Linked DNA regions of Homo sapiens. The protein of the gene in region 1 interacts with the protein of each later gene in a pairwise test. Each region holds a gene or a part of one and is shown on either strand. Other genes may lie near its edges.

Evidence for each region.
Region 2: the proteins of FKBP5 (region 1) and GLMN come close enough for resonance energy transfer, tested with the Homo sapiens proteins (one study listed by BioGRID).
Region 3: the proteins of FKBP5 (region 1) and MCMBP interact in binary tests that used the Homo sapiens proteins (3 or more experiments, as listed by UniProt).
Region 4: the proteins of FKBP5 (region 1) and CDK15 interact in binary tests that used the Homo sapiens proteins (3 or more experiments, as listed by UniProt).

The regions. Positions count from the first base shown.
Region 1 is NC_000006.12:35,636,916-35,640,415, reverse strand, and holds part of FKBP5 (peptidyl-prolyl cis-trans isomerase FKBP5), read left to right. Parts: intron 1-3,257; coding exon 3,258-3,402; intron 3,403-3,500. UniProt on the Homo sapiens protein: Immunophilin protein with PPIase and co-chaperone activities. Component of unligated steroid receptors heterocomplexes through interaction with heat-shock protein 90 (HSP90).
Region 2 is NC_000001.11:92,267,962-92,271,555, forward strand, and holds part of GLMN (glomulin), read right to left. Parts: coding exon 3,504-3,594; intron 1,816-3,503; coding exon 1,762-1,815; intron 175-1,761; coding exon 144-174; intron 42-143; coding exon 1-41.
Region 3 is NC_000010.11:119,834,800-119,838,393, reverse strand, and holds part of MCMBP (mini-chromosome maintenance complex-binding protein), read left to right. Parts: intron 1-1,364; coding exon 1,365-1,498; intron 1,499-2,689; coding exon 2,690-2,854; intron 2,855-3,594. UniProt on the Homo sapiens protein: Associated component of the MCM complex that acts as a regulator of DNA replication.
Region 4 is NC_000002.12:201,830,500-201,834,093, reverse strand, and holds part of CDK15 (cyclin-dependent kinase 15), read right to left. Parts: intron 247-3,594; coding exon 123-246; intron 1-122. UniProt on the Homo sapiens protein: Serine/threonine-protein kinase that acts like an antiapoptotic protein that counters TRAIL/TNFSF10-induced apoptosis by inducing phosphorylation of BIRC5 at 'Thr-34'.

The DNA.
Region 1 (3,500 bases):
GTATAGGTGTACCATTTTTTTTCTTGTATACCTTTTATTACTGTACCTTTTTCTATGTTGAGATATGCTTAGATACACAAATACCACTGTTTTACAATTGCCTGCAGTATTCAGTGCAGTAACACAATGTACAGGTTTGTAGCCTTGGAGCAGTAGGCCAAACCACCTAACGTGGGTGTGTACAAGTAGGCCAGGCCATCTAGGTTTGTGTAAGTACACTCTGCGATGTTCACATAAGGATGAAATCATCTAAGAACACATTTCTCAGAACATATCCCTGTCCTTAAGCGATGCATGACTGTGTGTGTTTCTTCACTCTATAGTTAATCATTTTCACGTGCATTTCTTTTGTTTTGTTTCTTACAACAATGTGGTGAGACAATCAGAGCATCTCTTGATTCTTCCATCTTATAAGTGAATAAACTGAATCTGAGAAAGGTTAAGTGGCTTTAGTCACATTAAATAGTTATTTCTCCTACACCATTGTTAACACATGTAAGTTTTGTATAGTTAAGTTTTGTTTTTCCTGAAAAGATTATCTGATGCATTCTGAATATTACCAGGATGCTGAGTTTTAATATCTCTTGTGCCAGCAGTAGCAAGTAAGAATTTTTGTTTTGTATAACTTTGCTTATGTGAAAGCCTTCTGTGCCTGGATCTCTTCTGAATATATGTGAATTGCTATTATGTGCTAAGTCAAATTTTGGGGACTTGCAGCTATAGAATAAGGGCTTTATGCTATAGATTTACATCCTATTGTCTTTTTTTAGAAGGCTTCTCAACCTTGTAGCTATAGTTACTCATCCTAAATTCCAGGAAGCTTCTAGAAACAGTGGAGACTTTGCAGGCTGTCCTCAGCATCTCCCTGCCTCTGTTTACGACTTACCCTTTCATCTTTTCAGAGTGCCCATGCCCAGAGAACATGATCCCCAACTTGCCTCAGACCCTGTTCTGTTCTAGGGAGTAAATCTAATTGCAAGATTTTTAGGCTTATTAAGAAACATTTGAGATTTGAAGCCCTTTAAATTATATCATTTATCATTGTCTAGAGCCTCGGATTTCACCATGAGGCTTTTGGTTAAGATTTAAATAGGTCTAGTAACTGTGCAAGCTAGGGCAATTTAGTTAACCTCTCTGTGATTAAGTTCCTGTTTGTAAAATTAGAATAATAATGCCATCAACCTCATAGAGTTATTAGGATTAGGTGAAGCACTTAGCATAGTGCCTGTCCTATAGTAATCTATCTTATTAACTATTACGTATTTTTAAAAAAAGAACCAGTGCTGGTTTGGAAATTCAGTAACTATCTGAGGAAGATAAAAGATGGATTTATATTTTAAAAATGAATAGAACCTAGATTGTGTTCTTAAGGCAACTCTAGATTTAGGTACAAATTCATCTTGCTAGGGAAGCCTGAAGTGATACCATAGTACCACTTGCTGGTGTGGATGGCTCTCTGACTCTCTGGTAGCCATTCATCCCACATGCCCAGTTACTGTTTATAGTCCTAGAAATGCAGATTCCTTCCACGTGAGGCTTACAGTTGAGCATAGCCTCCCAAATACCACATGCAGTTCGTGAACATGAGCACTTGTAGAATATTGTGTAATATCTTTTAGATTAATGTTTTGAGACTTTTTTTTTCTTTTGAAGTCCTAGAAGGGCAGTAGTGTTTCTTTGCCTTTAAAGAATATTTGGGGCTGGGTGCGATAGCTTATACCAGTAATCTCAGCACTTTAGGAGGCTGAGGCGGGAGAATCATTGGAACTCAGGAGTTCCAAACCAGCCTGGGCAATGTAGCAAGATCTCATCTCTACTAAAAATAAAAAAATTTGCCAGGCGTGGTGGCATGTGCCTGTAGTCTCTGCTACTCGGGAGGCTGAGGTGGGATGATCACTTGAGCTGAGTGATAGAGGCTACAGTGAGCTATGATTGTACCACCGCATGCACTCTAGCCTGGGTAAAAGAGCAAGACCCTGTCTCAAAAAATAAAATAAAGATGTTTGGGCTTTTGAGTTAAGAAAGCTGTGGAATTTAAGTTCACAGTGTTTATGTGATATTTATGTTAGGTGGACGGTATACTTGTAAAAAAAGAATTTAGGAGCAAATAATCGAATTATTTAAATAAAACTCAAAGCAAACTCCTTCCCCAAAAAGATGTTCATCAGATGTTAGCTACCATCCTCTGTTATCTACCAAAAATGATTAATTTGGCATAGATTACAAATTAACAAATTACACCATCACACACCTGGGTTTGATTTTCTTTTCCCAGAACTGACCAAATACATTAGCAGCTTGCTCTGCCAAGAACAAAATAAATACACTGGATTTTACAGTAGTTAAATACTTTACTAGAAAACAAGTTATTCAGTATCATATCAAGCAGTGCAATGATACTCATGTTTTTTACAGATAGACTATGTTTCAAATAATAGGAAATGTAACCTGTTTTACCAGGAAATTGGGCTTTCTGAAAATAAACAAGCAGAATCTAGTCAGGAGCTAATGTTTTTAGCAAAGGAGGGAAATAAAATTACACCTTTGAAGCTTTGCTTAAGCTTCTTTTTGAATATTTTAAAAGTCCACCATTCTTTCTGGTCTAAGTCCGTGTGTATATGGACTAGCTCACAAGCCTGTGTTAGAGAGTTTAGTGTCGGGCGCGGTGGCTCATGCTTGTAATCCCAGCACTTTGGGAGGCTGAGGCGGGTGGATCACGAGGTCAGGAGTTCGAGACCAGCCTGGCCAACATGGTGAAACCCCATCTCTACTAAAAATACAAAAATTAGCTGAGCACGGAGGCGCACGCCTGTAATCCCAGCTACTCGGGAGGCTGAGGCAGGAGAATTGCTTCAACCTGGGAGGCAGAGGTTGCAGTGAGCCGAGATCGTGCCATTGCACTCCAGCCTGGGCGACAGGGCAAGACTCCGTCTCAAAAAAAAAAAAAAAAAAAAAAAAGAGTTTACTGTCAAAATATAGGGCATTAAACCAATGAACAGGATTTATTGGTTAATTCTTTGAAGGAATAAATAGTGCGATTAGCAATAAAAGTAGATATAACATAAAAGACAAGTTGGTAAAGGACAGTTTTCTAACAATGAGTTATTGTGAGGAATGAAGGGAGGCATTAGAAAGAATGGATAATAGTATATTTGCATATCTGCCTGGATGTCTTGGGATGGACTGTGTGACCTTTTTATTCTCTGATTACAAGTAAAAAGTTTGACCTCCTTTTTCTTAATGTTTGTCTTTTCTAGATTGTCAAAAGAGTGGGGAATGGTGAGGAAACGCCGATGATTGGAGACAAAGTTTATGTCCATTACAAAGGAAAATTGTCAAATGGAAAGAAGTTTGATTCCAGTCATGATAGAAATGAACCATTTGTCTTTAGTCTTGGCAAAGGTAAGAGGGTATTTTTTTGAGTTGTGTTTTACTTAGCTTTATTACTATTTGTAATATATAGGAGCAGAGGATTCTATCCTTTCTAAAAGTAAAGAAAT
Region 2 (3,594 bases), on another chromosome or scaffold:
CTATTGTCTTCTATTCTCAATAAACTATTCTCCAGCAGCTCCTACAGATTAAAATATATGCAGATACATATATAGTGAAGTCAACAGCTGTTATTTGTTGACATAACTATGTATTTAAGTTATAATGGGAACAAACATCTTACCAATCCTTTGGAGATAACAGACTCTTCTGTTCTGAAAAATAATATTAAAATTTATCATGAATTTGTAAACTATTTTAGAATGATACTTCATCTTATGAAAAATACAGCAAAAACTGAAATTTTAACACTTTTAAAATGCATATCATTAAGGAGAAATTCTGTTGAAGAACTTGATCAAAAGTTTTAATCCATCTTTGATCTGTCTTTCGGTTTGGCTAAGGCCACTAAATCTGACCAAAATAAATCTACTCAGGGATTATTTCCTAACTTCAAAACAATAGATCTTCAACAGCAAGTGCTAAGAAACTAACTAAACCTGATATAACCAATGCTATATATTCCAGTTGATTATTCTGTAAAATCTTTCCAATTCTTTTTATTCAAAAAAAGACTCAATGACTCTGCAGTTTGGAAATCTCAAGAATTTAGGACTTAGATTCAAAACAATACATATTATCACTGTATGAATAACAGAAACTAAATGTAATGAATATAAAATCATTAAAACATACATAATACAGCAAATTTACAGAATTAGTAACTACTTGTGCCAGGAGACCCTTGGAAATTCCTGCCTTGTATGCTGAAGCTTTGGACATTGCCATGTTACAAATCTTCCTTCACCTGGTAAGAGATGGGACTGATAAACTGTCACTAGTGTTCATAGAGGATAATTGCAAAGCCCTAACTGATCTCAGGGGATAATTTAAACATGTTACATGTTATAGTGAAAGAAAACAAAGCATATAGTTCTGTGAAATTCTTTAATTTCTGTCTAGAAATTATGTATACCTGTTACTCTGTAATTTCCTTTTTTTTTTTTTTTTCTTTTGCGACAGGGTCTTACTCTGTTGCCCAGGCTGGACTGCAGTGGCATGATCTCTGCTCACTGCAGCCCAGACCTCCCAGGCACAGGTGATTCTTTCACCTCAACCTCCCAAGTAGCTGGGACAACGGGCAGGCGCCACCACTCCTGGCTAATTTTTTCTATTTTTTGTAGAGAGAGAGACTGGTTTCGAACTCCTGGGGTCAAGCAATCCTCTCGCCTTGGTCTCCCAAAGTGCTGGGATTATAGGCGTGAGCCACCGTGCCTGGCTTTTTTTTTTTTTTTTTAAATAGAAAGTCCTGCTGCTTAGCACCTCAAATGAGAAAAGTTGTAATTGAATGACATCACTGTCAATAATCTAAATTATAAAAGGTGGAAGTCAAGACACCTCCTTCCTTTTGATGCAATTCACAGACTGTGTCCATGAAGGAAAAATACGGAAGAACTTCTTTTATTGACTGCCCTTCCTTAAGATGGAGGAGGATGCAGTGGGGTAGAGGTGTTTTAATTTACCAACTTTTGGAGTAAGAGAAGAAACCTTAGAAACAGATGACTGTAAAAGCCCTTAAGACAAAATCTTAATACTGTCTTAAGTTTAAAATAAAACAGACTTTGGTGTAAAACCTCCTTGACTCATTTCTGTCTCTCTCGTGAATTATTTGCCTCGCTGTTTTATAAAATAACCAATTAATTAATTAGAGCTTAGCAAAGAAAAGGCAGTCTCCGCTGATCTTAACAAGGACTATTTTAACACTACTATTTCATTTTGAGATACCATCTAAACGATCTTACCTTTGCAAAAAGACTTCAATGTGCCCCATATTAAACTGCAAAAGGTACAATGGGCTAAAATAGAAACAAAACAAATATATATATTATACACACACACAGAGATATGTACACACATACATATTGTTATGGGTTGAATTGTATCTCCCCCAAAAAAGATATGTTGGAGTCCTAACCTCTAGTACCTCAGAATTTGACCTTATTTGGAGATAGGGTTATGGAGGTAATCAATTTAAAATGAGATTATTAGGGTGGGCCCTAATCCAATATGACTGTTGTCCTTATGTAAAAGGAAAGTTTGGAGACAGACACAAGCACACAGGGAGAACAGCATACGAACATGAAGGCAGAGAACAGGATAATGCATCTACAAGCCAAAGACCATCAAAGATTGTGAGCAAATCACCAGAAGCCAGGAGAGAGGCATGGAGAAGATTCTCCTTCACAACCCTCAGAAGGAGCATCCAGAACTATGAGACAAACTATTTCTGTTATTTCAACCATCCAGTTGGTAGCACTTTTTTACAGGAGCCCTAGCAAGTTAATATACATATGCTGTATAAGTTATTTTGGTGATAGAATGTGATGCTTAAGAGTATAGGCTCTGGGGTCAGACAGAGCTATCTGCATCCCACCTATGCCACAAAGTAGTTAGATCTTCAGTGGTATATTAACTTGTCTAAGCCTGTTATTTTCATCTGTAAAATGAGAGAATGCTCTATTTCACAGGCTTATTATAAGGATGAGATAATGCATATAAAGTTATTAGCATAATGTTTCATACATGGTGAACATGCAAATGATAGCCAGTATTTCAACATTTACATACGAATGTACTCCTAGCTATATTCATATATAAATGCACAAACTCACACAAATACCCAATGCCTATAAGACAAATACACAATCCTTATTATCATAGAACTCAAAGTCCAGAAGATATTACATTATAAAATTATATATTTTAAAAATAATTTTAATAAACATTGTGGGAAAAGAAGACAAGGTCAAGGTAATTATAATAGAAGGATTCAACCTAAATTGGGTGGTGAGTGAAGGCTTTCTTCAGAAAGTGACATTTAAGGATAAAGAGAATTTTAAGCATATACAAAGGCCAAATAGGAAAATTCATAACATTTAAACTAGAAACAAAAGAAGGTCTGTGTCACTGGAGCATAGTAAACAAGAGGAAAGGTGGTAGGAGATGAATCAGGTCAATTAAGCAGGGACCAGACCAGGCACAAGTTTGTCTCAGAAGTTATGCAAAGGCATTAAGACTTTATTCTTAAAGCAATAAAAAGCCACTGGAGGGTTTTCAGTAAGGGACTTCTTTTAAGGCTTCGCTTTCTGGTATGTTGAGAATGTGTTAAATTAAAAGGAAGTAAAAGTAGATATATAAATCCACTCAGGATTACAGCAGTAATCCAGTGAAAAGATGATGATACCCCTGGGTACCTGGCTAGTTCCAGGGTGGTCTCAAAAGCTTCAAAACCAAGCCCTGTTTATCATCTTCTGATTCTTGTCCCCACCATTCCCTTACACCTATTTCAACACTCCCCACTTTCATTACTTGTCTACTGCTATCTTTAACAGATTATAGCTGGGATCATTCTTATTAAAAATAGCCTTTACTATTTATTTAAAATGTATTAGTGTGTTAATATGCATATATTGGACATTAGATAAATGAGAATTTTATGAAATTCCTTTTAGAATACATGAATAAACCAAACACTAACTCTTACCTTAAGACCATTGGAAGCTGATCAATATGGATGCCCTGTACAAATACTAGATATGCCAGAGAAGCCATTGAGTCTGCTAACTGTTTATTTT
Region 3 (3,594 bases), on another chromosome or scaffold:
AGCATATGTTATAAACTAATTATATACACCAACTATGTTTTGCCATAGTATTCTGAAAGTAGTACAATGGAACAGATATATATCTTATATAATATATCTTATATAATATATATCATATATAATATATAATGTCTCATTTAATATATATCATATATTATATATTTTATATATTATATAATGGAGCAATAATATAAAGGGTAGTATTAGTATAATGGAGCAGTAATATAAAGGGTAGTATTAGATGTTGAGGGTCGTAAGGGTTCTTTGGTGAAAAGTTTTATTGTGTCAGCGAATGGTTGGAGCAGTCTTTATGGGCCTACAGTGTTGGGTTCTTTTGCGTAGTTGTATATAACCTAAAATTTTTTTTTCAGTGAGTGTAAGGAATGGTAGAGACAGGGTCTCGCTATGTTGCCCAGCTGATCTTGAATTCCTGGGCTCAAGTGATCCTCCTGCCTTGGCCTCCCACAGTGCTGGGATTACAGGTGTGAGCCACTGCACCTGCCCCAAATAGCTTTTTAAAAAGCTGAAATGGGAGGAAGCTTTGCCTTTAGTCATCTAATACCTCAAAAGGGAAGTGTAGAAAAGATCTAATATAATTTTTTTTTTGTTTTGAGACGGAGTCTTGCTCTGTCGCCCAGGCTGGAGTGCAGTGGCCAATCTTGGCTCACTGCAACCTCCAACTCCCGGGTTCACACCATTCTCCTGCCTCAGCCTCCCGAGTAGCTGGGACTACAGGCACCCGCCATCACGCCTGGCTAATTATGTTTTAACCTCCCGTTGTAAAGTTTGTAAATGGTTTTCAGAGAATGTCTGAGAAATAATAGATCAAATGGTTTGCACTAACCTCAGTTGCGGAATATATTATAAAATCACAAGAAAGCAGATTGTTTACCAGTGCTCAAATGAAGACAATTAAGAATACACTGCTGGCGATCAGCTCAAGAGGTAAAGGTAGAAGAAAAAATGAGGTAGACTGGGCATGTTTAAGGCAAAGGGGAATATAAAATCTGTAAAATTCACTAGGCTGATCTATGTATGACGGTAGTTTTAGTGTTTCCTTGGTTTAGCCCTGTAAATACACCACTTAGAAATAATCATACTTGGGAACTATTTTATGTCTAGGTGCATACCAGATGCTAGGTATTAGATTTGCGGGGGTATCGCCTGCCCCCAGAAAGTTCTACCTTGACCAAGACTGTTGTAAGCCTACACACTTAGTGACGTTTAGCTTAGTAAACTGGACAGCGCCTCATACCCTTTATTAAAAGTGGTAGAAACTTCATGGCTCATCATCGGTGTCAGCAAAACTGATGTGTTTAGATGATTAAAGTCAAATGACTGAAAGTGTTTTCCTGCCTTTGTAGGTGTTCATAATGTGACAGCCCTGAGCAACCTCATAACGTGGCAGAAGGTGGATTATGACTTCAGCTACCATCAGATGGAATTCCCCTGCAATATTAACGTTTTCATTACTTCGGAGGGGAGGTCACTCCTCCCGGTATGATGAGTCATTTTTAAATGGAGGGAGGTTGACATTGGAAAAATACCTACATTTTTGCTGTTTCTTGGTACCGCTTATTAATAAGTTACATTTGTTGTAAAAAAAAAAAAAAAAAAAAAAAAAAAAAAAAAAAAACTGTGACTGCTGATCATTAAGGGAATTGAGTATTTTGCACTGCCATGGATGAAAACCTTACATCTACCAAGCTCAGGTATCAGCAAGTCATGAGACCAGCAAGGCTGTTGGCAGCAGAAACACCCACATCTGAGCATAGCGAGATTGCCTGATTTTAACATCCAGACTTCTGTTCTTGCTACCTTTGACCCATTGTTTTCTGCTAATCTTATGTGAAAAATATTTCAGAGTTCTTTTAAAATGTCCTTGGTCACTTGGTAGTTATTTTCATGCTTTGTGGTGAAATGCTCTGGTATGTCTTCAGAGTGGCTGGTAAAGAGAGCTTTTAATTCTGTGGATGATGGGAAATGCTCCCAGTTGTCAAATGGTGTGTAGTCTCTGAATAATAGTATTCACCTGCGATTGATGAGAAACCGCCTTTGACTAAGAATGAAATGGCTCAAGGATATGTTTTCTGTGTGCAAGTATTGATAGACCTTTTTAATTAGCTGCTTTTTAGAGGTTGGCTACATTTTTGTGTGCTTACTGATACCATTGAGGAAACATAAGTAACCAAGAAAAAGCTTTCATAATTATTTCTGAGGTAGTTATAAAGCATGTAAATTAATATTAAAAATAGATGCTCACTGGCTGCGGTGGCTCACGCCTGTAATCCTAGCACTTTGGGAGGCCAAGGCAGGTGGATTGCGTGAGCCCAGAACTTTGAGGCCAGCCTGGACAACATGACGAAACTTGTCTCTACAAAAAATCCAAAATTAGTCAGGCATGGTGGCGTGCACCTGTGGTCCCACTACTGAGGAGGCTGAGGTGGGAGGATCACTTGAGCCTGGGAAGCAGGTTGCAGTGAGCTGCAATCACACCACTGCACTCCAGCCTGGGTGACAGGACAAAACCCTGTCTCACACACAGAAAAAAAAACATTATTCCCTCCCCCTAAATAATAAGTGGTATTTTCTAATTCCCATAGGGGCTGACAGAGATGATGCATCTTTCTTTAAAAATGTAGATTAATTTAGGAACTCAGAAAATACAGTGTACTCCTTCTCTTTTCAGGCAGACTGCCAGATTCACTTACAGCCCCAGCTAATTCCACCAAACATGGAGGAGTACATGAACAGCCTTCTCTCAGCGGTGCTGCCTTCCGTGCTGAACAAATTCCGCATTTATCTAACTCTTTTGAGATTCTTGGAATATAGCATATCTGATGAAATAACCAAGGTATGTCTAGGTTAAAATAAAGGATTTCCCTGTGTTGAATTGCAGTATGCAACCAATTTACATTTACCATAATTACTGATAAGGTAATTTTGTTATTTGTTTTCTGTCATGTCTTTTTTTATTCCTCTGTTACTCCATTATTGTCTTTTTGTTTGAAATAGGTATTTTCCAGTGTCCCATTTTAATCCCTTGAAGTTTCTTAAAGTTATTTTCTTAGTAGTTGTCTTTGGGGGATAAACTTAACATGTTAGTATAATCATCTATTAGGGATTAATGCCAGTTTGTTTAGTTATTTTTAATTTAAAAAAAATTTGTGTGGCTAATGCCATTTTAATTATATTATACAAAGACTTTGCCCCTTTATAATTCCGTTCCTTCTCCTCTCCCTTGTGCTCCTGTCATACAATTACCTCTCAGTACATTGTATGTCCATCAACACATTTAGAATTACTGCTTTTGCAGTTGTCTTTTAGAGAAAAAAGTTAGAAATGGAAAAGACTTCTGTACTATTTTTTCTATTTGCCTATGCAATCACTTTTACCAGCACCCTTTATTTCCTCATGTGGGTTCATGTTACTGTCTAGTATCTTTTCATTTCAGCCTGAAGAACTGTCTTTAGTGTTTCTTGCATGGCAGGTCTACTTGTGCAAATTCTTTTTTTTTTTTTTTTTTTTTTTTGAGACAGGGTCTCGCTGTGTCATCCAGGCTAGAGTGCAGTGTTGTGATCATGGCTCACTGCA
Region 4 (3,594 bases), on another chromosome or scaffold:
TCACAAAGCATCATGTTCTTGGGCCTCCAGTTTTCAAAGGCCAGGCCCAGTCAACGCTTAAACAAGTGCACACAAAAGCATCATTGTTCACAGCCCAGAATGAGACCCGAGGGGCGACTTACCAAAATCAGCCAGTTTGAGCTCTCCCAGGTGACTGATGAGTAAGTTCTGAGGTTTCAGGTCCCTGTGAAGAACGTGTTGGTGGTGGATGTACGCCAGGCCCCGCAAAAGTTGAAACATGAAAAGCTGGAAGGAAGAAACACTATCCATAAGGAGATTTGAGCCACCACGTGCTGATTTCGCCTCTAAATCAAAAACAGTCATCTCAAAGAATATAGTAAAAGTGTCTCTTGAGAGACCAAAAAAAAAAAAAAAAAGAAGAAGAAGAAGAAGATTTTTACATTCAGAGGGGGAAGAAAAAGGACAAGAAAAGTCAAGTAACTAGACTGTGTCCTAAACAAAGGGATTCTGGCTTTTCCTGACATCTCATTTCTTTGATACTGAAGGAATTACCCTTCTTTAAAAATCTAAAGTGAAACTTTGAAGTTTCCTTTGGAACACTAGTTATTGATTTAGATGTGAAAGATTTAATTTTTTTCCCCACCGATGAACTTGGCATATAAGATCAAAGTTGACCTGGAAATGATATTCTAAAGTTTACAACTGCTTAAGTTTTCCAGGCTCTCCAATATGAAACCCTTTTAAAAACACAACACAAGGAGACCACACTAAAAAATATATCTTTAGATGGTATTAGAAAATAAAGAAATCTTTATCTTTTTAAAGCTATTTTTAAAGTCTTAAATTCAAAGTTGAAAACAAGGGAAATACACAGTACAGATGAAAAGGGAAGAGAGACCAAAATAAGTTAGACCCCCCCCCTCAAAAAAAATCAAAAAAGAATAAGGAACAAATTGTAGGAGGAAGAAGGGAGAAAGGGTAAATGGTAGTGGTGGAGAAATAAAAGGGAAAAACACATTCTGAGCCCCAAATTAAAAATGTTTCATGTGGTTATGAGGCACAGAAACCAAAGCCATTAACTAGGTTCCCATCACTACAGAAACTTACGGGAAAAAAAGAATGCTTAGTATTCCAAGTATCTTTTGCTATTTTCCAGTGCCATTGGCAATTGAGAATTCAAACACCAACATCAGTATTTACAAAGACGTATGTCAACTGAGAACGTGTTCTGGCAGTTCAGAAAGGAAGGGCTAGGCCCAGCATTCCTGGGACATGGGCAAAATGGCAGATGCAGAGTTATGTGGATTAATCCTCTTTTTCAACAGCATCTTAGAAAGCTAGGACTTTCAGAGATGCTAGGACCAGTATTGATCTAACAAAGACCTGGAGACATTGGAGCCAAATGGTCCAATGGAAGCAGGAGCATGGAGAGTTTACCTACCATAGCATACCTGCAGCTATGCAGGTTTCATGTAGCTACCACATCAGGTTCATAAACCATTTAAGTATTTTAAAAATTTCTTATGACTCCTAGTTCAAATGTTAACTGGTTCTATGAATCTTCCCAGCATTTTCTCTTTCTGATGCTTCAAATATACACACATTATTCATTTTACCATTCACCAAGCCACGAAGCTTCCATAGCACAAAATTCCTACACTGACATTTAAACCTTCTGATTGGTTATAAATATAAATGTCCATGGAAAAGGTAATACAAACAACCAGCTTAAATTCCAGGTAAAAGACAAGAAGATATGATAGTATGTGCTTAAAAATACGTTTTTCAGACTGGCGCAGTGGCCCACGCCTATAATCCCAGCACTTTGGAAGACCAAAGCGAGCGGATCACCTGAGGTCAGGAGTTCGAGACCAGCCTGGCCAATGTGGTGAAACTCCATCTCTACTAAAAATACAAAAATTAGCCAGATGTGGTGGTATATGCTTATAATCCCAGCTACTCGGGAGGCTGAGGCAGGAGAATTGCTTGAACCTGGAAGGCAGAGGTTGCAGTGAGCCAGGATCGTGCCTCTGCACTCCAGCCTGGGTGGCAGAGCAAGACTCCATCTCAAAAAAAAAAAAAAATGTTTTTCAATATGCAGGACTAGGGAAAGAGGAAGAGGAAGACAGGTGGATAGAAGACAGGAAGCTGGTGACCAGTGAGGGATACAACCTTTGGGATAGCATGCTTATCCTCAGTTTACAGAGAAAACCAGGGCTCAATGTAACTTTTAAAACATGTCTAGGAATAGTCAGAGCCAAGACTCAAATTCAGACTTGTCTGACTCCACTATACCATCCTGAGAAACTAGAGAAAAGACAGAAAATGAAAACATGACAGGGAAGGAGAGAGCCAGCTGGCTGAGTCAGAGACAGAGCTTCTTAGTAGGTCAGCTTGAAATGCCTTTTATGTCCCAAGTGTAGACTATTTTCACTAACTAGCCACAGTCCCTTCCCACATTCTTGCCATTCAACCCCTTTCCTCTCTGCCAGATACGTCTACAGGCATTTGTGAGTGGTAAAGCACTGCGGTATTAAGGTATGGTATTTTATAACCACATTTCTCAAAATTGCAGTCTGTGCTGACAAACCTCATCACCCACTCACCCTTTCATCCCTTCCAACCTGGATTCTTCATTCAACACTACAGAAGCTTCACCAATTATTGCATCCTAACATAACCAAATATGATGGTGTCTGCACAGTTCAACATCAGCCAGATCGTGGGTGACTCTTTCCAGAAAGGCTTCCCAGATCCCAGGAGTTAGACCTGTTTCCAACTCAATAAGTTTTGGGGGAACAAAATAATTCCATTGAACTAGTGCCATCTGGGCCAGGAGTTACTCAAAAACCAATGAGATCCGTTAGCCAACTCCTTATAGGGAAGCCTGAGTCCTTCCATCCCCCCTGGAATCCCTGGGACTCATTCTACTAGAAATCTGAAACAAGATAACCTCACGAGGATTCCCACCCTGTCTTCCTTGGTCACAACTCAAAATATAAGCCTCTGACTATTCCTTTTCCTCCCAACATACTCATCTCCATTCTGTTCTGTGCTTCCTCTGTTTAGCTTCATATCTATTGCTCCTCTCTCTCCCAAACATTTTCACTGTTTAGTCTCCATTCTTCAATCCTGCTTTAAAAACTACCTAAAAGCTAACCTCTGGTGAATTTCCTTTTGGCTCCTTTCCTTAAATGAGACCTTGAGCTCACTGCTTCCCTATAATATTCTCAAGTGGATGTTAGTTTTTCTATAACTTCCTCATACCTTTGACCACTGACAAGTGTCATAAGCTGCCTCCCTTTTCCCCACTACCACTTCAAAACCATTACTTCTCTACTTTTAAGTAAAAACCCCTGTCCCTTGGATTTTAATGCCATCCAGCCACATCTTCCATTACTCTTCTTTTAGCGGTCATTCACTGAACTCTCAATCCCTCTCTGTCATTCACTGAAGATGTGGGCACTTGGATCACAGCTGTTGACTCCATGACATTAGTGCCCATGAGAACAGCTCTAGCCAACCTCAGCTCCAATGATCTGCTTCTCCAATCCACTTCAGACACTAACTCCCGTGGTCACACACTAGATCTTGCCATTGTATGGAACTGTTTGTCCTCTGAAATACAAAATT